Homo sapiens: one gene and its partners. The protein of the gene in region 1 interacts with the protein of each later gene in a biochemical or structural test. Each region holds a gene or a part of one and is shown in the gene's direction. Other genes may lie near its edges. The genes, in order: FRMPD4, SCN4A, GJA1, RAPGEF6, KCNJ18, GUCY1A2 and PREX1.

Region 1 (2,551 bases):
CTGGGGCTACAAATTGGTGGGGATGGATTCTACTGTGTCAGCACAAATGCTCTTCACAGTGGTTCTAGCATTTAAAAAACTTCCCGGGGAGAAGAACAGAGGGGATGATGGGCAGTTTCCTAGGTAACACCTAGAGTTATAGAATATCTCATTACATAAAATGTATGGAATTAATAATACCAAAATTAATTATTTGATGGAAAGATCTGCTTTGACTAAATGTCAAAAATCTGCAAACCAAAGACATTATCTTCCCCTCATCCCAACTCAACTACGAAACTTAAAATTCCCTTTAGAGTGATAGGACATTTAGTAAAGTATTTGCAAACTTAAAAAAAGGAACATTTAATGATCATCAAAATTAAGTACAGATTCAGTAATGTAGACCAGACCACACACCAGCACCTGTGAGTCTCATCTCAGATCACAGCTCTCAGCATAGGGCTTCATGCATCACCGCCTCTACAGAGGCTAAGGCTGCCAGTCAAATTTGGAATTATAGCGTAGTACTGGGACAAAATCTCAAATCTTGGATGTTCCAGAAAATCAGGGAGAGATGGCTACTGTAATCATGGGAGCCATGAGTAAATAGTTAAGTATTTATTAAATAAATACTTAATCTGGATTGGCTGATAAAAATATGAAATCTGAAAAAAAAAAGAAAGAAATGGAAGTGGTATATTTGACCAGTTCAAGTGAAACCAATGGAATGCAAAGAACTTTCCAGGACTGTCACATCTCTAAAAGTACCCTGCAGTCATAAAATAAAATCGATATGTATATATGTATTTCCTGGGTCATTCAGTGCTCAAGTTACATGCACTCCTACTTAGACAGGTGGCTCCTTAAGAACATGATGGGAGTACACCAGGTGCAAATATTTCTACTTTTGTAGCCTGCTGAGAAGGAGTCATAACACAGTCCACAATTGCAATCTCTCTCTAGTCAGCCATTCCACAGGGACTCAACAACAAAAGCCGCACGTGGTTATGGATGGCAGCAAAGGAAAGGAGTTTAGGTGTGTGTTATTATAAATAATGTTTAACTAAATAATAAAACATTATTTCATTACAATTATAATTATAAATATTGGTGTTTTGATATTGAGAGATATTAGTGGTGTTTACTGTGGAAAATCTTAGTAAATATCATTCTGTGTACTAAAATCCTAACCTATTAATAGGATGTGTGCCCTATGTCAGACAGTGTGCTAAGCATATTAACTATATTATCTCATTTAATCATCACAACAATCTGCTGGTTTGGACACTATTCTCTCTGGAGGCAATATGGATGAGTTCTTACGGATATGGGGTTTGGGGTCAGAAACATCTTGATTAAAATTTTGACTCTGCCATTTTCTAGCCCTTTTATGTTGGGAAAGCTACTTTTTCTAGTCTCAATTTCCTCATAATAAAATGAAAATCAATTATAAGATCGATTTCCATAGGGTTGTCATGAGTTTTGAGTAAAAATGTGTATGTAAAGTTCTTACCACAATACCTGGCAGAGAGTAAGTATTCAATTAATGTTAGCTATTATTATCATCATAATCGTTGTGTTAAATATATTGCCCAAGATAATATGTGGGGGAATGTTTGTTTTATATGCATATTGTATCCTGACTGTGTGCAGAACACATTATGTGTATTGCATATATGTAAAAGAAGTGTACAAGGAAGTGGCCATCCTTGTTCAAGTTACGTATCTAGTTAGAACAACTTCCCAGTCCATTGGAGTTCTTTGAGAAGCCTCAGGGAAGTAGCTCTGGGTCCTTCTAATCAACCTCCCATTACTGCGCCAGTAAGTTTCTGTTTCTTATAAATAAACTCTTTGCTATTCAGAAAACCTCAAGGGGCCCCCACATTCACTAAGCATGGGGCTCCTAACTGGGGTCCAGGTCCATAGAGTGTAGGAAGAACATATTAGAACAATACTTGTGCTTATTTTTATCTAGCTTTTTTATGTTTGTGTATGTTTTATAATGGCATAATAGTACAATGGTACATGTACATAATTTTAAATAAATAAATGAATGAATGAATAAATAAGCATATGCCTGGTGCATGCATGTGACAATATTGTCGCAGGTAGGGTTGCATTCACTGAAATCTGGAGAGCACTGAACTGGAGAATAAACCTTCCTTATACTCACGGTTCTTTATGTTTAGTCCCCAGTCTACTTTGCCAAGTTTATCTCCTACCATTTTTATTAATCTTTTATCACAAATCTTTCAAACAAAAGTAGACACAATCGTATGAATTCATGTGGACTCATTACCTACCGATTCATGTCTAATCTTATTTTCTGTATTTCTACCCACCTCCTCTCCCACTGTATGATTTACAAGCAAGTCCCAGACATCATAGTGCTTAGCCCATGAATATTTCAGTAAGAATATCCTGTGAGAACTTTTAAACATAACCACAATGACGTTTTTGCATTTTAAAAATTGGGAATTCCTTAATATTATCAAATAAACATTACAGAAATAAATGATGGAGAAAGTAATAATCCCCTTAAACCCAACTTCCAAAGATAACCATTGTC
Region 2 (3,500 bases), on another chromosome or scaffold:
AGAGATGAGGACCTGGGGGGCATGGGAGTGCAGGGAAACCTGTGGGCATGGATGGAATACTTTTCTGTTTGGGGGACACAGGCAGAACTGACGGAATTTTTCCCTTGGGGTCCCTATCTGCCCCCAGCTGGAGTGCTCCTCCCACCCTAAACCCAGCCCCCTGTCCTATTCCTAGGCACTGCCCTGAGGGTTATGAGTGCATCAAGACCGGGCGGAACCCCAACTATGGCTACACCAGCTATGACACCTTCAGCTGGGCCTTCTTGGCTCTCTTCCGCCTCATGACACAGGACTATTGGGAGAACCTCTTCCAGCTGGTACAGCTGCCCCCACCCTGCCCCCCAACCCTACAGCCACTCCCCCTCCATCCCTGCAGCCTCTTCAGGGCCTGATGGGGCCTACCACAGGATGGCCAACCCCCGAACTGGGCCATCTCCTCATGGACTCCCGCAGTGCCCTTATAGGAGCTTGTGCTCTCTGAAACTAGACACCTGCCCCGAGCCAAGCCACAGCTTTAATTCTTTCCACACCTTTGCTTTCAGAGCCAAGGTCTGGACCTAGCATAGGCACAAGCCCAGGACCCCCTAGGCCTCATGATAGCCAGTAGGGCAGCTTAGAAATCCAATGCTGCCTGCCGGGCGCGGTGGCTCACGCCTGAAATCCCAGCACTTTGGGAGGCAGAGGTGGGCGGATCACGAGGTCAGGAGTTCGAGACCAGCCTGGCCAACATAGTGAAACCCCATCTCTACTAAAAATACAAAAATTAGCCGGGTATGGTGGCACGGGCCTATATTCCCAGCTACTCAGGAGGCTGAGGAGGGAGAATTGCTTGAACCCGGGAGGCGGAGGTGGCAGTGAGCCGAGACCACGCCATTGCACTCCAGCCTGGGCGACAGAGCGAGACTCCGTCTGAAAAAAAAGAAAGACAGAAATTCGATGTTGCCCATACTTTATTTGCCTTCTACTGTTTGCAGGGAAGGCAGGCTGAGCCTGGAGTGACAGTGCCTTCTGATGCCATGTGATGTTTCTAACATTGATGGTGTTGATAACAATAACAAAAATAATAACAGCTACTGGCTGGGTGCAGTGGCTCATGCCTATAATCCTAGCACTATGGGAGGCCGAGGCAGGCAGATCACTTGAGGTCAGAAGTTTGAGACCAGCCTGGCCAGCATGGCGAAACCCATCTCTACAAAAAATACAAAAATTAGCCAGGTTTGGTGGCAAACACCTGTAATCCCAGCTACTCAGGAGACTGAGGAAGGAGAATCACTTCAACCTGGGAGGTGGAGGTTGCAGTGAGCCGAGATCACACCGCTGCACTCCAGCCTGGGCAACAGAGTGAGACTACGTCTAAAAATAAATAAATAAATTGATTAAATAATAATAATAGCTACTATTTGTTGAGTTCTTACTAGGTGCCAGGCACTGTGGCAAAGCTAGAATTCAAGCTGACCCCAAACCCATGTTCACCAATTTTCTATCCTGGCTCTCTGATAACAGGATGCCTGGCTTCGGTCCTCCTCTGAGCCAGGAGACCAGAAACGTTTGAGTCCCAAGTAGATATTTTGAAGTTCCCCAGAACATGGCTCAGCATGCCAATGACGGCCATCAGTCCCCCAGGCTCTGTGAGGGAGGGGCTCTGCTTACCCATGCGGGCAATGGATGTATGGAAAGGGGCACTGGGTCAAAGGAGGTGGACGTCATGGGACCCCTCCACTCCCTCTCCCTCCACTCCCAGACCCTTCGAGCAGCTGGCAAGACCTACATGATCTTCTTCGTGGTCATCATCTTCCTGGGCTCTTTCTACCTCATCAATCTGATCCTGGCCGTGGTGGCCATGGCATATGCCGAGCAGAATGAGGCCACCCTGGCCGAGGATAAGGAGAAAGAGGAGGAGTTTCAGCAGATGCTTGAGAAGTTCAAAAAGCACCAGGAGGAGCTGGAGAAGGTCTGGACTCAGGGAAAGGAGATAGAGGACCCAGGGTTCTACCTGCCCTCAGCCGGGGCTGCCACTGGCTTCTCCCTGGGGGGCCGAGGGTGAGGGAGGGTACAGGGGTAGGGGTTTTGAGGCAGAAGGAGCAGAAGGCCCTGGGCTGGGAGCTTTGCTGGTGGCAGGGGGATGGAGGGATCCAAGCAGTAGAAAAAGCATTTCTCTGCTCTGTGCCTCAGTTTCCCTGTCTATAACAAGGAATCTGGAGTAGCTAAACCTGAAGTATTCTTCCAGCTCAAATATTTCTGATTTTGTGATGCTTTCTGGGTAGTGGATAGGTCCATACTGAGGGAAGGGCAGGTCCTGATGAGGCCACAGGGAGCGGCTGACCAGTTTCTCATTCTGTCAACAAGTGGAGGGTTAGTCAGGGCATCAGAGTCAAGGGTCTTCAGGGCAGAGGGTCTTTAGTCACTTTGGTCCCTACCCTGTCACCCCCACCACCATGGAGGTTGGTCCCTCCCCCACCTGCACTAAGTTTGACACAGGCCAGGAAGAGGGGCTGCCACCCTGAAGGACTCTGGAAGAAGCTCTGAGGGTCAATTAGTCCATCCCTCTGGCTCAGAGCTGGACTTCCTGCCAGTCACTCTTGCTGGTCTACAGGCCAAGGCCGCCCAAGCTCTGGAAGGTGGGGAGGCAGATGGGGACCCAGCCCATGGCAAAGACTGCAATGGCAGCCTGGACACATCGCAAGGGGAGAAGGGAGCCCCGAGGCAGAGCAGCAGCGGAGACAGCGGCATCTCCGACGCCATGGAAGGTGAGTGCCTTGTGCCCCCGTGCCCACTTAGGTAGGGGTGGAGCCTGGCTGGACTGGATTCAGGAGGATAGGGATGCCATGGAAGGTGAGTGCCCTGTGCCCCCTCTACCCATTCAGGCCCCTGAGGTCAGGGTGGGGCCTGGCTGGACCAGCTTCAGGACAGTAACTTAATATTGGCATAGAAGAAATGGCTATATTTATACTATATTTATCACAGCCATTTCTGGCTGTCACAAATATAGTCCTGTCTTAACCTGGCCCAGTTCTAGCTGCAAGGCCAGGCTGCTATGGGAACTGGGGGCTTCCGGGAGGGCCTTGGGGACTGCCCAATGGGAAGCACAGGCTAATAATACTAACCAGAAGGCCCAATGTTCCGGAAACTGGACATCCTGCTCCTCAAGTGTTCTCTGGGTAAAAGTTAAAGGCCAAAAGTCAAATTCTGCCCAAACAGAGTGACAGACTCCCCAATCCCTGTGCCACATGCTGAATCTCAGAAGAATAAGGATGTCATGATGAGAGAGGGTGAATAGACACGACACGACAGATGGATGGACAGATGGATGGACGGACGGATGGATGGATGGATGGATGGATGAGAGGGAGGGAAGTAGGGAGGCAGGAGGGAAGGAGGAAGCACAGGAAAAAGGGACAATAGAGAAAAGGAATTCTGACACACAGAGATGTGGTTCCCTCCCCAGGTCGGCTTGCCTTGTGCCAGGGAGTTGGGGGCCCTGCAGGACTTTGCAGATCTCT
Region 3 (3,500 bases), on another chromosome or scaffold:
TATCAAATTTCACTTTAGTTTTCAATAATCCTATTTACCTTTATTTAAGTCTCCATTCTCAACTCATTACATTTGTCTCTTCTTGAGAAAAATATTTAAAGTCGATAGTAAAATACTTAATTCTAATAACTATTAGTATATTAATGGCATGGAAAGACTTGACTGCAACTTCGGCACATGCTCTAGCAAAAGGCATAGTCAAATGTAATTTAAAATCAAAGCTTTATTTTTAAGAGATCTCATTTGAATTAAAGCGTTTAAGTTCTTCTGCTCTCAGGGAGCTGCAGATGGAGATGTAAGGAGTGACAAGGGGCTGTGGAGCCAAGGCTGACCTCAATGCCGGGTGCCCAGAGAGCTGCTGCTCCTGGTACTCAGCCCCTTGGATTTTTTAGACTGTTCCTTCTGCTTTCCTGACATTTCTCCCACTCCTAAATATTTTGAACAAGAAAGGGCCAGAAATGTCAAGAATAGTAACAAACACCAAAAAAACCTTACTTCCTAGGCCCCACCTCCAGAAATTCAGATTCATTCAGACTGGTGAAGACCAGGAATGTATGTTTTTAACAAATGCTGCCAAGTGACTGTGATGCAGTTCAGGAAAGGGGCCAGAGGAGCCTCAGGCTGGTCACACTTAGTGCCTGTAGCTTTGGGCATCCATCCAGTCTAGGGGGCCATGAAGAGCAATGGAAATGTAATCTAACATGGTGCATAGACGGCAAAAAGCGTGGTCCAGCTGCTAAGACTCTGCTCTTAACAAGAACTTTGCACAACTCCTCTTAGACAGACCTTGGTCTACATATAAAGCACCAACTCAGTATCCTAGAGGTGAAGGCATGAATATATGTGATATGTCCAGCTGCGTTGGTCTTCTCATGTATCAAATAAGAAATATACCTGTTTCCCCCTGGTGAATAAAAGTGCAGTTTATAGTCTGTAGATCAATGCCAGGGATTCTGTAAACATATAATTATGCCCTTTTATTATAAGAGGGTATTAACTTACCATACAAGACTTGGAAAAATGAAGATATTAAACTAGTTTGGGAAGGTGCAGCAGGGAGGAACAACCAGTTGCCAAAATTTGATTCATGGCAAAGTGAGCAACTACCAAAAAAAAAGGGAACAATTTTTGTTACCTGTTTTTGGGCAGCTGTCACATTAAACATTATTTGATGGTATCTATGATAGTGGAGATCGACAGGTAGCTACATGTTACAGGATACTCGGTGTCCAATTCGATAATTCGTATCTTATTAAGATGAAAGAGTATAACTCATTAATGCAAATGACAACTGCATGGGTGCTTAAAGAAAAGACAACTTTGCAATTAAGTTACTAGAGTATTAAAAAAGAACTAATGAAGAGCTGTCTGATGACTTAGTTCACATACTATGGAACTGTGGAGTGTTTTTGTAGAATCTCAAAATTATATGAAAGTCATGTATCATGAATTTTTTTATAGAATGTAAATAAAGACTATACTTTCAGGGATCATTTCTATAGTTTGTTACTAGAATGTAAATAAACTTAGTGATGAATTACTATAAGCATCTACACAATCATATTTTACTTTGAGTAATGATGAAATCCTAGCTAAAATAACTTCTGTTCTGCCTGGTCATATTTCTAGATATGATAGGTTTGTCTTCAGCTCTATCGTTGCATGAATGTGATGAGATGTATGCAAAGTTTATCTTTTTATACTTGATTGTTTTTGTTATTTTTCCCCTAGCAATTGAAATATGTGAGCAAAAGCAGATGACACTGGCAAAATACTGTAATTTTTTACAAACAGAATTAGGGCCAATTTTACACATCATCACATAGAAACTGTCTATTGATATAGCTCCAAAGATTCTGTTTGTCTGACCCTCATGGACTATACTTCTTCATTTCCAGTCTAGTATTTTCTGCTAAATTGTAGGGTTTTTTTTTCTTTCACATTCTCTCACCATCAAACTGTCCATCACGGCTAAATTACTCCCTCACTTCAAGCCTTTCCTTGGCTATTCAACTGTCTTTGTCAGCCTTTCAAGCCTTTGTTCTTATTTGACTGCTGTTTTAAATTGATGCTGTTTTCATACATCAATTTCACTTCCTAACTTGTCACTTCAGAATCTAAAATGACCCTTCCTAAGTAAAAGGGAAGCTCCCTTTCTTATGACCACTGGGGGAGTGTTATTTCTGTGGCCTTCACACCCACCTCCCACTCTTACTCAGCATTCTTTGGCACTAGTCCCTGGGCTGTCATCAAATGTACCCATGATACCGTGGTACCATCTAGCTGGTGCATAGTTTAGCTTTATGGCTCAGCCATCTCTTCTTTGTTCGGTCCAGGAAATCCCAGGTCAGGTGCCCATTTCATTTTTTCTTGTTCTCTATGGCCAGAAGATGCAGTCATTAGACAGAAATGTAATGTTGCTTACTGAGGAAGAAGACTCCCCTGGATTTCATTTACTTCCTACAAGGAGATACAGCTCAATAGTTCAACACCAGAAGAGAAACTCCTTTATATTCAGATAGTGAACATATTTCTAAGAAGCCTAAATAATCCTACCTTTAGATACTCTATTTAGAATTCATTACTAAGCTCCTGCAAAGTCTTAGCTTTGCTTGTTTTTAATTATTAAACAATCTTTGACTAATTTGTCCTTTTCTAAATCCTCCAATTACTACTATGTGCTGAAAATTAGCCTATATTCCCTATGCCTGCCACATCATGTTACTCACTTCTTCCCAGCTTTCAGCCCTGGCTAAGGTTGTGTATATCAAAGCCTGGAAACATTTCTAGCTTTAGCGCAGCCTTACTGTACTTTTAAAACCAGTGTGAGGCATTGAAAAGACTTGCCCGGGGATTGTGAATCTTCTTCTGGCTCTGTCTATAGCTAAATATTTCCTATACCCTGAGAACCTCTGAGAACCTCAATTTTTATCAGCTAAATGGATAATCGGCAATTAGAAGCATAAATTGAACTAGACAACTTTGGGGATTCTTGTTGGTTTCTACTGACTTACATCTTTTTAGTGAGACGGAGTCTCTCTTTGTCACCCAGGCTGGAGTGCAGTGGCGTGATCTCTGCAAGCTCCGCCTCCCGGGTTCAAGCGATTCTCTTGCCTTAGCCTCCCGAGTAGCTGGGACTACAGGCTCCCACCACCACACCTGGCTAATTTCTTGTATTTTTTGTAGAGACGGGGTTTCACCATGTTAGCCAGGATGGTCTGAATCTCCTGACCTCATGATCCACCCGCCTCCCAAAGTGCTTATAGGCGTGAGTGCATTATAGGCGTGAGCCACCACGCCTGGCCAGATCTTTTTCTTATCCTCAGTAATGGAGAAGGCGTGGACTTTAGATAGCTAGATATTGATAAGAAGTTAAATGGGATGTATAGCCTGAGGGTCCAAAGCCCAGTAAGGGAACTTTAAAGTATATAACAATGAAAGATGAAAACCAATCTTTTCTGGCTGGAGAAAACACCCTGAAGTAGGTTTTGTTTGTTTGT
Region 4 (3,500 bases), on another chromosome or scaffold:
TGAATAGAGATTAACAGAGTGGTCTTTAGAATCAGCTGCACCTGTATTTGAATCCTGCCTCTCCCATATAGTAGCAATGTGTCAGTGGAAAACTGAAGATAGGTTTTCTTATCTGTAAAATACCACCTATATCACAGTTTTTAAACAGCTAAGTCTAAAACAGAGGAATAAAGATGCCACTGATAAACACTTGGAAGGCTAGAAATGGAACCTGTTTGTAAAGGAAGCATCAAGTAAAGAATTTGAAAATTACGGGCTCAGTTTTAGAGTCCACTATGAAGAAAATTGATTGACACTGAGAGAATAGATCTCTGTATAAAAAAGAGGGTAGAAAGAAAGTGGTAGAGGTCTAAAAACCATACCTTAGTATGATGACTCAGTGTGAGGGTAAGGAAAAAGAGTCTAGCCAAAGAGATGGAGGATCAGTACAAGAAACAGAGTAGCACAGTTATGATAGTGTCATCAAAGCCAATGAAAGAGAGTGATTTGAGAGAAGATGTGATGGACAGTAGCCCAAAGAAGGGAGTGGATAGGAAAGGGCTGAGATTTGGTTAAGAGGCTTTGTTTGGTTAAAAGATTTGTTTTGTTACAAAGAATATTTGTTCTGCACATTTTCATAGCTCATGTAAAGATCATTGCTTTGTTTCTTTTGTATTCTTTTTAAGATAATTGTTTTGTATTCTTGTACTTCATGTTCAGGTAGATCAAAGAATATACTCTTTTCAGCAGAGATGGCAAAGGTGAATCATTCTGTTCTGGCTATAATTAACAACTTTTTATAATTATAAAATAATTTTAACTTTTTGAATAGACATGACATGTACATGGAAAAAATTTTAAAGATAAAGAGTACACAGCGAAAGTAACTTTGTCTCACCCAGTCCCTAATCCACCCAAATTCCTCTCCCCAGAGATACTGTTACCTTTTTTCATTCAAGAAATACTCTATCCATATAGCAAGCATATAAATATATATTTAAAACCACCTTGGCTAATTTTTTTAATTTATCTTGGAGATTATTTAAAATCAGTTCTTATAAAGTTGTCTCATATTTTTTAAACAACTATGAAGTACTCCTTTGTATTGTGGAGTGCACATTATGGATATTTCTAAATTTCCAGACTTTGGCTATTTAAAACAGTGTGTGGTGTTTACTTTTGCCATGTAGAAATTTTTTTATTTTTATGTAGATGTATTATTTTTTTTCCTGCTGGAGTTTCTGCATTTTGTGGTTAGTTAAGAACAAAGAATTGCCTAGGTTTGAATCCAGTGTTGGCACTTGTTGTCTATGTGAACTAAGTTTCCTCATTTGTCAAATGGGAAATCCTGGTAGTTCCTACCTAATAAGGTTAAGAGTATTCAATGAGCTAATACAATGAGAGCTCTTAGAACACCCTAGACAACATTTTTTATTAATCTTGAATTCATTTTTATGTAAACAGTGAGATAAAGAAATATATCTTTCTTTGTTCCAAATGACTTCTTCACCCAACATCATTAATCAATCTTTTTTTCTAAAATATGCAATGCCATCTATTATGTACTGAAATCTAACACATATTTGGGTTTATGTCTGCACTCATTGCTTCATTGATTTGTCTATTCATTTACTGTTTTAGTTGCTGAAGTGGTAAAATAGGTTTTAAGGTCTGATAGGGCTAGTCAAACCCCTTATGACTCTCTTCATACTTTTCTTTGGCTATTTCTGGCATGTTTATTTGTTTCATATCAACTTTAGAATCAATTTATGTAGTTCTTTTAAAAAGTTTTGTTGATGTCTGGGCGCGGTGGCTCACGCCTGTGATCCTGGCACTTTGGAGGCCAATGCAGGTGGATCACAAGTTCAGGAGTTCTAGACCAGCCTGACCAACATGGTGAAACCCCATCTCTACTAAAAATACAAAAAAATTAGCCAGGTATGGTGGCACATGCTTGTAATCCCAGCTACTCAGGAGGCTGAGGCAGGAGAATCACTTGAACCCAGGAGGTGGAGGTTGCAGTAAGCCAAGATCATGCCACTGCACTCCAGCCTGGGTGACAGAGCAAGACTCTGTCTCAAAAAAGAAAAGAAAAAGTTCTGTTGATGTTTTCATTGAGATTACATTAAATACCTAGATTACTTTAGTGGACATTTGATAGCTTTGTAACAATGGCTCTTGCCATCCAAGAACACTTATTCCACTTGTTTCAGTTTTCTTTTATTTCCTCTGTGGAGTTGTTTTATTAGTCTGTTTTCACACTGCTGTATAGAAATACCTGAGACTGTGTAATTTATAAAGAAAAGAGGTTTAATTAACTCACAGTTCCCCATGTCTGGGGAGGCCTTAGGAAACTTACTATCATAGTGGAAGGCGAAGGGCAAACATGGCGTGTCTTACATGGCAGCAGAGAGAGAGAGAGTGAGGGGGGAAGTGCCACACTTTTAAACCATCAGATCTCTTGAGAACTCACTGATTATCATGAGAACAGCGTAGGGGAAATCTGCCTCCATGACCCAGTCACCTCCCACTGCGTCCTTCCCCTGACATGTGGGGATTACAATTCCACGTGAAATTTGGGTGGGGACACAGAACCAAACCATATCAGTTTTTATAGTGGTGTTCATGTAAATCTTGAACATTTGTTTGAATGTTTAATATCTTTTATTGCTGTTGTGAATGGGATCCTTATATTATGAATGGGATCCTTAAGTTTTCTAATGGTTTCTGCCTAAGTATTCTAATGCATATGAATATCAGTGTTGTACCTAGTACCTTACTGCATTCTTCATGCTTCTAATAATTTTCAGTTAATATTTTGGGAGTTTTGAGTTAAACAATCTAATTTTCTTCAACTGATGATAACTTTACATCTCTCATTCCATTTATTAATAACTATTTCTCTATTTTGTCTATTTTCATCTGCTGGTGCTTCATATTAAATGATACCATTGTCCCTCAGTATCTGTGGGGCATTCGTTCCATGGCTCCTCACAGATAGCAAAATCCTCACATACTCAAGTCCTGCAGTTGACCCTGAGGAACTTGTGGATACATAAAGTCAGCATTAGCAGGTTTCACATCCAAGGAAACTGTATTTTTGATCCACATTTGGTTGTGAATGTGGAACACTCAGATACGGAGGGGTGACTGAATTTATTGAAAAAAATCTGCATATAAGTGGATCCATGCAGCAGTATTCCACGGTAGCAGGAGTTAGCCTTGTATGTGAATTGTTTTATCCTTTACTTTTTCTTAGTAAATGGAGATTGTGGCAGCATTAGGGCTGCTTACAACTCAGAGTGTCTCCCTTCTCTCCTGTCTCAAACAGATTTGTACCAAAGTGTATCACTGTGTGCTATGCCAAATAAAGGATTGTTGGCTTGGCATGGTGGCTCATGCCTGTAATCTCAGCACTTTGGGAAGCCAAGGCAGGCAGATTACTTGAGCTCAGGAATTCAAGACCAGCCTGGCCAACATGGTGAAACCCTGTCTGTACTAAAAATATAAAAATTAGCCAG
Region 5 (3,948 bases), on another chromosome or scaffold:
ATTAATATGACATCTGAGGCCCCCTGGGGTGATGCCTCAGCCTCTGTGCCTGCACACGCTGAGCTTCCCTGATATGATGGTGTCAAGGCTGTGCCCATCTCGTCACACCTTCCCCACAAACCCCGAATAGTTTAGATCCTGGAATGGAGGGCTGGCAGGGCTTCTGTGGAGTAGCTGGGCCAGCCCCCTGGTTTGCACACAGTCAGGGTGGGTCTTGCCCAAGGCCCAGTGCCTGGAGAGTGAAGCTGGAATCTGCACCAAGACTGCAGGACTCTGGTGCTCTTAGCTGTGTCACTGTGCTATGGTTAGTCTCAGGCGGGGTTGTCACCCCTGCTGCTCGCTGCTGCCTCCCCACTGGCAGATACTCCTCTAGGAAGCACCCCTCCTGCCACTGGGTTAGACACCTCCCCTGGGCTCCAGAGGGCCCAGCGACTTATGACTGCTGACTTCTCACCGTCTGCCCTGTGAGGCAGGGTGCCCCATGAAGGCAGGCGCCCAATGCTTCCTCTTCAAGTCCTCGGTGCCCAGTGAGGACTTGAAGAGGGAGACCCAGAGAGGGACAGAGCCCTGCTCCAGGTCACACAGCAAGTTGGGGCAGAGCCAGGAGTCCTAGAAGGGCCCCAAGACCCTCCAGGTCTCCCCTGTTCGTGGGACTTAATGGAGCCCAGGGATGGGGCAGTGTCTGTGATGGCCACCCCAGCAGAGGGCACTACTGCAGGGCCTCTGTTCTCTGCTTCTCCCAGGGGCCTGGGGCCAAGGACACCCTCTGTCCCTCCTGCCCCCACCCTCTGTGAAGAAGGATGTTCTCAAGATAAAAATACCGTCAGAAACATTCCCTGGTGTTTGGTGTGACTGTCGTCCACCCTGTGGGGCCAGAATCTTCTGACCTGGCCTCACCTCAGGGCTTAAGGGTGGACATTTGCCTTTTCTAGCCGCTTGGTGCAGCCTCTTTCTGGGGTCCATATGTCCAGCCCCCATCTTTACGCCACAGAATGTGAGGGGTCAGTGTCACTCAAGGTTCCTGCAGCTTCCACTTTCTGAGCATCCTCTGTGGGCTGGGCGCATCCCGAGCATGGAACAGCGAGGCAGATCCTGCCCTTGTGCGTTTTGTGGCTCCTTGCGGGCCAGGGGGGCTTCTGAGGACATCCAGCAGGCCACAGGGAGGCTTGGGCACAGTCAGCTTTCCGTCCTGTTGGGAAGCCTGTTTCTGCTTTCAGTGCCTACGTGGTGTCAGGAACGCCGGTCACAGTGAACGCCTGCAGGACCCACACTGCTGCATCGTCTCTGTGGGACAGATACTGAAGCCAGGGCTTGGCTTACCCTCGTGACAGTCTCCCGAGGTGTGTGGGGTCTCCTCATTTTGCAGATGGGGAGTTTCAGGCCCCAGTCAGCTGGGGGGCTGCCAGGCCTCTCCAGGGAGGGTGACGGCTGCCACCTCCCAGAGACCCGCTGGGGCGAGGCCCAGTGCCCGGACTGCAGCTTCGTCACCACCTTCAATTTCATGGCACACCCTCTGAGAGGCCTGGCAGGCGACACCAGCCTCATTTTTCAGGGGAAGCTGAGCCTCAGGAAGGGGAAGTGCCTTGCCCTGTTCCGTGGGGGATTTCAGCCCCATCCTCAGCCCAGGCCCTGCCCTCCCCTGCGGGACGCTGTGGGCCAGCCCGGCCTGTTGGCCCTCAGTCGTGGTCATGGGGAAGCACTGCCCCTGCAGCCCACCTCCCCATCCAGGATTGTGACCATAACCCCGGGAAGCATTTGTGGGACTTGGCGGGGTGAGCTCACATGGCGGCTGCTGTGGCCCCTGCAGGTGGCGGGAGCTCTGGCCAGGGCATCCGGAAGGCTGGCTCCTGTTTGCAGGGTGCTGCCCTGCCCTGTGACTTCAGGAAATTCGCTTCTCTGCTCTACGTCTCAGTACCCCTGTGTAGAGTAGAGCTAATTTTGCCTTCCTCCTAGATAAAAACAAATCCAGCTGGATTTGTGGTCTGGGGAATGCCCCTTTCAGGTAGTAGGGAGTGAGGGACGAGGTTGGGAGAGCCTGGTGCAAGCCAGGTGACCAGCAGGATGTGGATAGATGCTGCTGCCCACACTTCTGGCCCCCACCCCTGCTTGGCTCCCCATGGCCCTGTGGCAATATCCGACCTTCGCTGCTCAGAGTTCCAGCTCCAGGTGACTGTGCAGGTGACTTAGCTTCTCTCAGCCTCAGTTTTCCTATCTGTCCAGAGGGGAGAATTGTCCCTCCTCCAAGGCAGGGCTGTGAGCATCGGGATGACTGCAGCCAGCTGCCAAGCATGCAGGGCCAAGCACAGTGTTGGCTCACTCGGGGAAGGGGGTGGACCCAAGTCCCTGCCGTGGAGGTCCCCAGCTGTTTGATGTTGGCTTGTGACAGAACCTCTCTGAAACTCTGCAGCTCATCCACCTGTCCATCCATCCACCCGTCCATCCATCCACCCATCCATCTCTGAACCTCTGTGTCCCCATCAGTTTTGAGGATGGAATGGCTGAGAGAGGCAAAGTGTAGGCCTGTGGCTTCTGCTCCCAGAATGATGAGGGATGGGGAAGAAGGGGCTGGGGATTGGGGGACTTGGAGGGTGAAGAGGGACTGAAGGGCCACTAGAGACCAGGCAGGCCATCCCATTTCAGAACAAGCTGAGAGAGGGGAAGTGACTCACTCAAGGTCACACAGCTTATGAGGGGCAGAGCTGGGATTTGAATCTAGGTCTGTGTGCCTGTAAACCACTGTCACCTGTCCCAGGAGGCTGATGATGTGGGGGTGACTCACCAACAGTTGCCTTAATTCCAGCCAGAAAAACCAGTGTGACAAACCAGCCTCGGCTGTAACCTTGGAAAGGGCAGGCCCCATGAACTCCATGGCTGGGAGGTGCGGAGGTGAGAAGCATGTCAGGTGGCTCACCGTGGAGATCCTCAGAGCCCCTTCCCACCAACCTCTTCTCTGATTCTCACGGCACACTGGATAGGAAGGCAGGGGGATCCCTTTGACAGGTGGGGAAATTGCATCTTTGGGATTGCAGGGACCATGTAGGATGTATGTGTACCCAAGGCAAATCTCTGGCAAATTACTGATGTGTGCCCATCCATGTAGTTAGCCATGTGCCCACCTGCTCATCCATCTAGTCATCTATCCTACTTGCCCAAACACCCTATCCATCCATCTACCCACTCATCACCCACCCTCACACTCATCCACCCATCCATCTATCCATCTACCCACCCATCCATCCACCCATCCACCCATCCATCTATCCATCTACCCACCCATCCACCCACCCATCCATTCACCCATCTGTCCATCCATCCACCCTTCCATCCCTCTATCCATTCATTTCTTTACCCACCCATACACTCATCCACCTGTCCATCTATCCACCCATCCACTCATCCACTCATTCACTCCACCCATCCATCACCCAACATTCCATCCATCCATCCATCCATGCACCCGTCACCCATTCATCCATTAATCTGTTCATCCACCCACTCAACCATATACCCACCCATCCACCCAGCCATCCCTCTATCCATTCACTTCTTCACTCACCCATCCACTCATTCACTCACCCATCCATCCACCCAATCATCTGCCCATCCATCCATCCCATTCGTCTATCCATCCATCCACCCACCCATTACCCATCCATCCACCCATCCATCCATCCATCCACCCATTCACCCATCTATCCCTCCATTCATTCATCTACCCATCCGCTCAGTCACCCACCCATCTACCCTTCTGTTCATCCATCCATCCAATCATCTACTTTCACACTTATCCATCCATCTATCCAACCATCCATCCATCCATCCATTCATCCATCCATCCATCCATCCATCTTTCCATCCTATTATCCATTCATCCACTCATCCATTCACCCATTCATCCACTCATCCATCCTTCCTCCATACAGCCATCCACCCTCACACCCAACCACT
Region 6 (3,500 bases), on another chromosome or scaffold:
GGCAATGTGACATGAGTGGTGATATTTTTATCTTAATAAGTGACTTTCTCAACAAGTCTTGAGCATCCAATCCATGAAACCAAAATGAATATGAAATGCTTATTAATAAAGGGACTGTTTCTCACTTAGGTTTTCTACTCATTTTCCTATCACATTGATTTTAAGAAGTTCTTTGTCAAACTGACTTCTTGGCTACCAGAAGTTTTAGACTCTATAGTAAGCTCTTAAAGAATATTAGATGTGCTTTGACTATTTTAAAAACAATATTATTCACTCTGTTCATTTGCCTCACTTCTGGCTGGGAGGAACACTCAGGGAATGATAAAGGTAGGAAAGCAGCTAAGCTGTAGACAGCCTAGATTGCTCTGCACTCTAATGGGGCGCTAGCAAAGTGACCTTCTTTTCCCAGTCCTGCCTGATTTGCAGGACTTCAAATGAGATGATGGAAATGGGGCAAGAAAATATGAATATGTAAACTACATGTATTGATTTCAACCAATGTCAAAGGAGAAGCAATAGAGTTTAGGTAGAAGCTGTCTTTAATATGCAGGCCAAAATCTTTTGTATGTGTTATAGTCCTCTTTGGCACATAAATTCCCTCATTTTTCCTCATATCATCCTCAAGGGGGGGATCTTGTGATCACATGTGATCCTGCTTCTTATTACGATAGAATACATTGTGCACACTTATTTATTTTTCATTGTAATATCCAGCACTATAAGGTGGAACTCTTTTGCCAGGGCATCAGGGAGTGATTATATATGGAGAAAACTTAACAATAACCTTTAATTCTGTCTCATCAGATTCCTCCTCCATGCTTGGCTGCCCTTACTTTTGTGGGTGAAAGAATGTAAATCATTCCAGAGTTCTGTCATTATTATTTTCTTGTTTTTTCTCCTTTTCCCTGAGGTCTAGCTGACCTGCATGTCTTTCCCTGAGATTGCTAATGTAAGCCTTTTGTTTCCACCAGATAGCTTGATGCCTATCCCCATTCATGTGCCATAGATTTCTTTTCTGGTTTATATTTTCCACTTAATACATGCATTTCGATAAGAAGTAAGATGATAATATGGATGTAATATGGACATAATATGTAGGCAACTTGGATATTCTGTGAAGAATGGGGAAATCATTAAGAAAAAGAAAAATATATTATTTATGATAACTACTGCAAGGCTATTGAAAGGTGAACAGCTAGATTAGCAACATTTAAAAAGCTGATGCTCTGGGAGTTAGGGAGAAGGAAGGGATAAACAGGATTTTTAGGGCAGTGAAAATGCTCTAAGTGATATGATAAGTGTATACATATCATTATACATTTGTTTAAGCCCACAGAATATACAATATTAAGAGTGAGCCTTAATGTAAACCATGGAATTTGGATGATAATAATGCATCATGTAGGTTCATGGATTGTAATAAATGTACCACTCTGGTGGGAGATATGATAATGGGGCAGGCTGTGCATGTGTCGGGGCAGAGAGATATGGGAAATAACTGTGCCTTCTGCTCAATTTTGCTGTGACTCTAAAACTGGTCTAAAAATATGTAGTCTATTTAAAAACAAACAAAAAGGTTCATGTTCATTAACATTTTAGAGGCATCCTGAAGATGAACTGAAATTTATATTTTCTGATTCAAGATGAGTGAATTAACCTATGTGGAAATTTGTGGATCTAAGAGAAATAACCTTTGTTACTTTATTCAGTAGTTACTCTTTTGATAAGCACTTAAAAAGCTATAAATTCAATTATTTATATTAGACTTCACTAACATTTGCTTCCCATTTACCTCTAGGTTTGAAGTTTGAGGAAATTCAAAAAAGATTTGGTGAAGAGTTCTTTAATATATGCTTTCATGAGAATGAGAGAGTCCTTCGAGCTGTAGGTGGCACTTTGCAGGACTTTTTTAACGGCTTTGATGCTTTGTTGGAACACATTAGAACTTCTTTTGGAAAACAGGCCACTCTGGAGTCACCATCTTTCCTATGCAAAGAGCTCCCTGAAGGTACTCTCATGCTCCACTACTTCCACCCTCACCATATTGTGGGGTTTGCAATGCTGGGGATGATTAAGGCTGCAGGAAAGAAGATCTATCGGCTGGATGTGGAAGTGGAACAGGTTGCAAATGAGAAGCTATGCTCTGATGTTTCAAACCCAGGCAATTGTAGCTGTCTTACTTTCCTTATCAAAGAATGTGAAAATACTAATATCATGAAGAACCTTCCACAGGGAACCTCCCAAGTTCCTGCGGACCTCAGAATTAGCATCAACACCTTCTGTAGAGCCTTCCCTTTCCACTTGATGTTTGATCCCAGCATGTCAGTCCTTCAGTTGGGGGAAGGTCTAAGGAAGCAGCTTCGATGTGACACTCACAAAGTGCTCAAGTTTGAGGACTGCTTCGAGATTGTATCTCCAAAGGTTAATGCCACCTTTGAAAGGGTCCTGCTGCGACTGTCTACCCCGTTTGTGATTAGAACCAAGCCTGAGGCTTCTGGCTCTGAAAATAAAGACAAGGTAAGTGCTATGGACTTGAGATGGTGATGGGAACTAGAAGAGTGGATAATTATTTCAGTAAATTACATGGTGGCTGTACTTGTAATTATTTAGGCAAGAGAGCTTAAAGTGCCATTTAGAAGATTACTGGTCCCTGGATGTATGTAAAAAGATTTGGCCTCATTCCCAGCCATTTTGCATAGTGTCTGCCTCCTCCATTAATTTATTTCAGCATATAAAAAGAAGACATTTATTAATACTAGCTATAGCAATTACAAAAATGATAGAACTCACTAAAAACCTGATAATATAAACACATGAATATTTCCACTGAATGTAGTCAAACTATGAGAAATATAGCATTTCAATATTGTGGGGCGTGACTGCAATATCTTTAAATACATATGCTAAAAGTTACCTTCACTTTGAATATGTTCTTTTCTAAATTTCATAATCTGGGAACATCTGGTTTACATCCTATTTTTGTCTTAATATGCAGAATAATGTATTCCCCAAAAGCTGAGAATTGACTATCTCGAGACTTCTGTTTAAATTTTAGTATTAAAATAGAGATTCATTGCTTTAGAACATGATCTCTAGTTGAGAGAATAAAGTGAAGACTAGGAAATTTTTTGTGGATTTCTTTGAATCCCCTTTGGGAAATCTGGATTATAAATTATAAATAATTGATGAAAAGACACCAGAAATAAATCTTAAAATATTTGGGTTTAAATGAACATTTTGTCCCTCAGGTAAAATATTTTAAAAAGTCAACATTAAAATAGATAATAAAATGTAAAGAAAAATAAACCATGATTTTTTATGTTTAGTAATATGCTTTCAGTGATTAAACGGAAAAACAACATTAATTTCCAGGACAGAAATTTGTATAGTTCCATTCAGTTTCCAGTAGAGTGTCTTTTCAACATTTTGTACTAGGGTAAATAAAGTTCTTTTAGGCTATTTAGCCTGTTTCCAAGCATTTGAGGGAAGCTATTAGCTAT
Region 7 (3,500 bases), on another chromosome or scaffold:
AGGCTCTGAGGCCATGGCTGCAGGGCTCTGTGCTGGTCAGTGCATTCTGAAGGTCAATGGCAGCAACGTGATGAACGATGGTGCCCCTGAGGTCCTGGAGCACTTCCAGGCATTCCGGAGTCGGCGCGAAGAGGCCCTGGTAAGTTTACTGGAAACCGGGGCCGTCAAAGAAGTCCTGCTGAGTGGGGGTGGGTGGCTGAGGGCTGTCCTCTCTTTAGAGAAAAGCCTGCATGTACCACTGGTTGTGAGTAGGGTGGAGCTGCTGACCCAACAAGAGGGAGCTGGGCCTGAGCTTTGTGCTCCCGCTGCATCCTTAAACCAGAGTTGCTGAGCCATGATACCCGGGGGTCTCGGTTTTCACAGCTGTGAAATGGGTGTGACCAGACCCTCTCTCCTCACCACATAGGCATGTTGGGCACATAGTCAAGTGGGTTGGGAAAGTGGATACTCCATTTGGTTGGGGGCCAGGGTTCTGGTGGAGGGCGAGATTCCCTCATTGATTGATTCACTGGTTCACTCAGTGTGTGTGTGTTGGGCACCTGCTGTGCACCAGGCATGTTTGTAGACCCTGGGGACACAGGAGAGACGTGTCTGCACCCATGTCCCTGCCTCACATTTTCACATCCCCTGGCTTCTGTATGGAGCATAGACTGTGCACGGTGAGGGCTGAGTGTGACTGGTGGTCAGTGAGTTTCCAGAGCTCTGGAACCCAGGGGCAGTTCACACCTCGGCCCTGTCCCCTCCTCCCTACCTGCCGGCACCATGGCTGTCCCCTTACTCTGGCTTCTGGCAGGGCCTGTACCAGTGGATCTACCACACCCATGAGGATGCCCAGGAAGCACGAGCCAGTCAGGAGGCCTCCACTGAGGACCCCAGTGGCGAGCAGGCCCAGGAGGAAGACCAGGCTGATTCAGGTAATAGACGGGGCATGGCATGACAGGAGCTTCCAGAGGGACTGAGACTCCGGAGGGGCTGGGTCCTCTCCTGTTGTCCCCTCCCCTCCCCTCCTCCCAGCCAGTCCACCTCCATGCCAGCAGGTTTGTTTTTTTTTTCCTTTTTGGAGACAGGTTCTGGCTCTGTCACCCAGGCTGGAGTGTAGTGTTGTGACCACAGCTCACTGCAGCCCCAACCTCCCTGGTTCAAGTGATCCACCTCAGCCTCCGGAGTAGCCAGGATCACAAGCGTGTACCACCACACCTGGCTAATTTTTTAAATTTTAGAGTTTTTTTTTTAGAGATGAGGTCTCCCTATGTTGCCCAGGCTGGTCTCTTAACTCCTGGGCTGAAGCAATCTTCTTGCCTCGGCCTCGCAGAGTGCTGGGATTACAGGTGTGCACCACTGCGCACGGCCGCGATGCCCACGATGTTATGTCAGTTTCTGATGGCTGCTATAGCAAAGTGCCCCAAACCCAGCAGCTTAAACAACACACAGTTACTACTTAAATTTTGGAGGTCAGAAGTCCGAGTCCCACTGGGCTGAAATCATGGTGTCCACAGGGCTGTGGTCCTCCTTGGGCTCTCGGGGAGAATCTGTTTCCTTGCCCGTTTCAGCTCCCTGGTCCAAGCCACTATCATTTCTTACCAGGACGGTGGCAGTAGCCTGCTCATGGCTCTCCCTGTTCTGACTTCCTCTCCTCCAAGGGGCTATTCCCCCAGATGAGAAGAGAACCTTCCGATGGCTCCCTCTGTCCTCAGGGCCAGGCCTTGGATGGCTTGTGTGACCTTGTCCAGACTGGCTCTCCAACACCTTCCATCACTTCCCCACTCGCCTCTCTACTCTGGCGGAATGTACTCCTGCCCTGGGGCCTTTGCACTTGCTGTTCCCACTGCCTGGAAGGCTTCCTCCAGAATCCTCCTCGCCTCGCCTTCCTCCCTCCCTCTGATCTCTGCTCAGATGTCACCTCTTTTGGCTTCCAGCCTTCCCACTGCTGTCCCTGGGTCCCCGGCTGAGCCTGTGTGAGGACAGCCCCATGGTCACCCTGACTGTGGACAACGTGCACCTGGAACACGGCGTGGTGTATGAGTATGTGAGCACGGCAGGCGTCAGGTGCCATGTGCTGGAGAAGATCGTGGAGCCCCGCGGCTGCTTCGGCCTCACCGCCAAGGTCTCCTTGGGCACTGCCTGGCCCTGCCCTACCCTGGGGGATTGAAGCCAGTTTCTCTTATCAAAGGTTGGGAGAAGGAGTTGGGTGGGACACCCGAATCCCATTTCCTCAGGCTTAGCCTGGAGTCCTGAATTCTGGTCCTTGTCCCACCACTAGGTAGCGTGGGACTGTGCAGAGTGGCTTGTCCCTTTAGCCTCAGTTTACTCCCGTGCAATATGGGCCAGCAACACACCTGACTTCCCGGGGGGTATTACGAGTAGTACAGGAGTCACTGTGGGTGAACCGCTTAAAATCTTCCCGGCACACAGGGAATGCTCAGTAGCTGTTGACATTTCTGCAGATCCTCGAGGCCTTTGCTGCCAATGACAGCGTCTTCGTGGAGAACTGCAGGCGGCTCATGGCCCTGAGCAGCGCCATCGTGACCATGCCCCACTTTGAGTTCCGCAACATCTGTGACACCAAGCTGGAGAGCATTGGCCAGAGGATTGCCTGCTACCAGGAGGTGCCTGCGTGCTCCCTCCGGGGTCTCTGCCACAGGTCCCAGACATAGCATCTCAGCCTGGGATATTTGGGTTGTAAATTACAAAGCCCAACCCAACTCAGCTGAAACAAACAGGAGAATGTATGGTGTGTATTACTGAAAAGGACGGAGGTGAACTTATCACATCATAGCAGTGCGGCCTCTCCGCATCTCCTGGCTTCGTTTTCCTTAGCGCTGGGTTCACTCTCAGGCAAACCCTTCTCATGTGGTGGGGACACGTTGGCCCTTGATAGCTCTAGCCTCAGCAAGCCCAGGAGAAAATTAACTCCAAGGGAGTTCTGGTTGGCTTGGCTTAGGTCACTTGCCTCACCTGGTTCCAATCGCCATAGGGATGGAGAGGCACGTTGACCCTGAACCTCATGAACTGAGGGTGGGGCAGAGACAATGCCTCAAGGATGGTTCAGGGGCAGCCAAAATGGAGCCATGCATGGGGTGGGCACCCCGAGGCCTTGGGTTCCTCCAGGCCTTCCCTGCAGTCCTGAGCCGTGAAACACAGTCCAGGGGTTCCCCTTCTCATTTGGAGCTACTGGCATTTTGTCCAACTGTGGGGCATCTGGCCTAGGCCAGGATAAAGTGGGTACTGGGTATGGGCCAATATTTCCAGACCCTGCCCTGTGATTCACGACCTTACGGCCTCCACTTTCTCAGTTTGCAGCCCAACTGAAGAGCAGGGTCAGCCCACCCTTCAAACAAGCCCCCCTGGAGCCCCACCCGCTGTGTGGCCTGGACTTCTGCCCCACCAATTGCCACATCAACCTCATGGAAGTGTCCTACCCCAAGACCACCCCCTCAGTGGGCAGGTCCTTCAGCATCCGCTTTGGACGCAAACCCTCCCTCATCGGCCTTGACCCGGAG

The links.
Region 2: the proteins of FRMPD4 (region 1) and SCN4A interact in a test that uses a peptide from one of them, tested with the Homo sapiens proteins (one large-scale study listed by IntAct).
Region 3: the proteins of FRMPD4 (region 1) and GJA1 interact in a test that uses a peptide from one of them, tested with the Homo sapiens proteins (one large-scale study listed by IntAct).
Region 4: the proteins of FRMPD4 (region 1) and RAPGEF6 interact in a test that uses a peptide from one of them, tested with the Homo sapiens proteins (one large-scale study listed by IntAct).
Region 5: the proteins of FRMPD4 (region 1) and KCNJ18 interact in a test that uses a peptide from one of them, tested with the Homo sapiens proteins (one large-scale study listed by IntAct).
Region 6: the proteins of FRMPD4 (region 1) and GUCY1A2 interact in a test that uses a peptide from one of them, tested with the Homo sapiens proteins (one large-scale study listed by IntAct).
Region 7: the proteins of FRMPD4 (region 1) and PREX1 interact in a test that uses a peptide from one of them, tested with the Homo sapiens proteins (one large-scale study listed by IntAct).

The regions. Positions count from the first base shown.
Region 1 is NC_000023.11:12,722,473-12,725,023, forward strand, and holds the end of FRMPD4 (FERM and PDZ domain-containing protein 4), read left to right. Parts: 3' UTR 1-2,051; downstream 2,052-2,551. UniProt on the Homo sapiens protein: Positive regulator of dendritic spine morphogenesis and density. Required for the maintenance of excitatory synaptic transmission. Binds phosphatidylinositol 4,5-bisphosphate.
Region 2 is NC_000017.11:63,962,919-63,966,418, reverse strand, and holds part of SCN4A (sodium channel protein type 4 subunit alpha), read left to right. Parts: intron 1-175; coding exon 176-317; intron 318-1,741; coding exon 1,742-1,951; intron 1,952-2,210; exon of another isoform or gene 2,211-2,335; intron 2,336-2,593; coding exon 2,594-2,747; intron 2,748-3,104; exon of another isoform or gene 3,105-3,154; intron 3,155-3,500. UniProt on the Homo sapiens protein: Pore-forming subunit of Nav1.4, a voltage-gated sodium (Nav) channel that directly mediates the depolarizing phase of action potentials in excitable membranes.
Region 3 is NC_000006.12:121,442,146-121,445,645, forward strand, and holds part of GJA1 (gap junction alpha-1 protein), read left to right. Parts: intron 1-1,471; exon of another isoform or gene 1,472-1,548; intron 1,549-3,500. UniProt on the Homo sapiens protein: Gap junction protein that acts as a regulator of bladder capacity. A gap junction consists of a cluster of closely packed pairs of transmembrane channels, the connexons, through which materials of low MW diffuse from one cell to a neighboring cell.
Region 4 is NC_000005.10:131,457,230-131,460,729, reverse strand, and holds part of RAPGEF6 (rap guanine nucleotide exchange factor 6), read left to right. Parts: intron 1-3,500. UniProt on the Homo sapiens protein: Guanine nucleotide exchange factor (GEF) for Rap1A, Rap2A and M-Ras GTPases. Does not interact with cAMP.
Region 5 is NC_000017.11:21,691,375-21,695,322, forward strand, and holds the start of KCNJ18 (inward rectifier potassium channel 18), read left to right. Parts: upstream 1-1,148; 5' UTR 1,149-1,340; intron 1,341-3,948. UniProt on the Homo sapiens protein: Inward rectifier potassium channels are characterized by a greater tendency to allow potassium to flow into the cell rather than out of it.
Region 6 is NC_000011.10:106,938,477-106,941,976, reverse strand, and holds part of GUCY1A2 (guanylate cyclase soluble subunit alpha-2), read left to right. Parts: intron 1-1,798; coding exon 1,799-2,517; intron 2,518-3,500. UniProt on the Homo sapiens protein: Has guanylyl cyclase on binding to the beta-1 subunit. Isoform 2 acts as a negative regulator of guanylyl cyclase activity as it forms non-functional heterodimers with the beta subunits.
Region 7 is NC_000020.11:48,650,000-48,653,499, reverse strand, and holds part of PREX1 (phosphatidylinositol 3,4,5-trisphosphate-dependent Rac exchanger 1 protein), read left to right. Parts: intron 1-2; coding exon 3-139; intron 140-793; coding exon 794-914; intron 915-1,916; coding exon 1,917-2,104; intron 2,105-2,444; coding exon 2,445-2,606; intron 2,607-3,293; coding exon 3,294-3,500.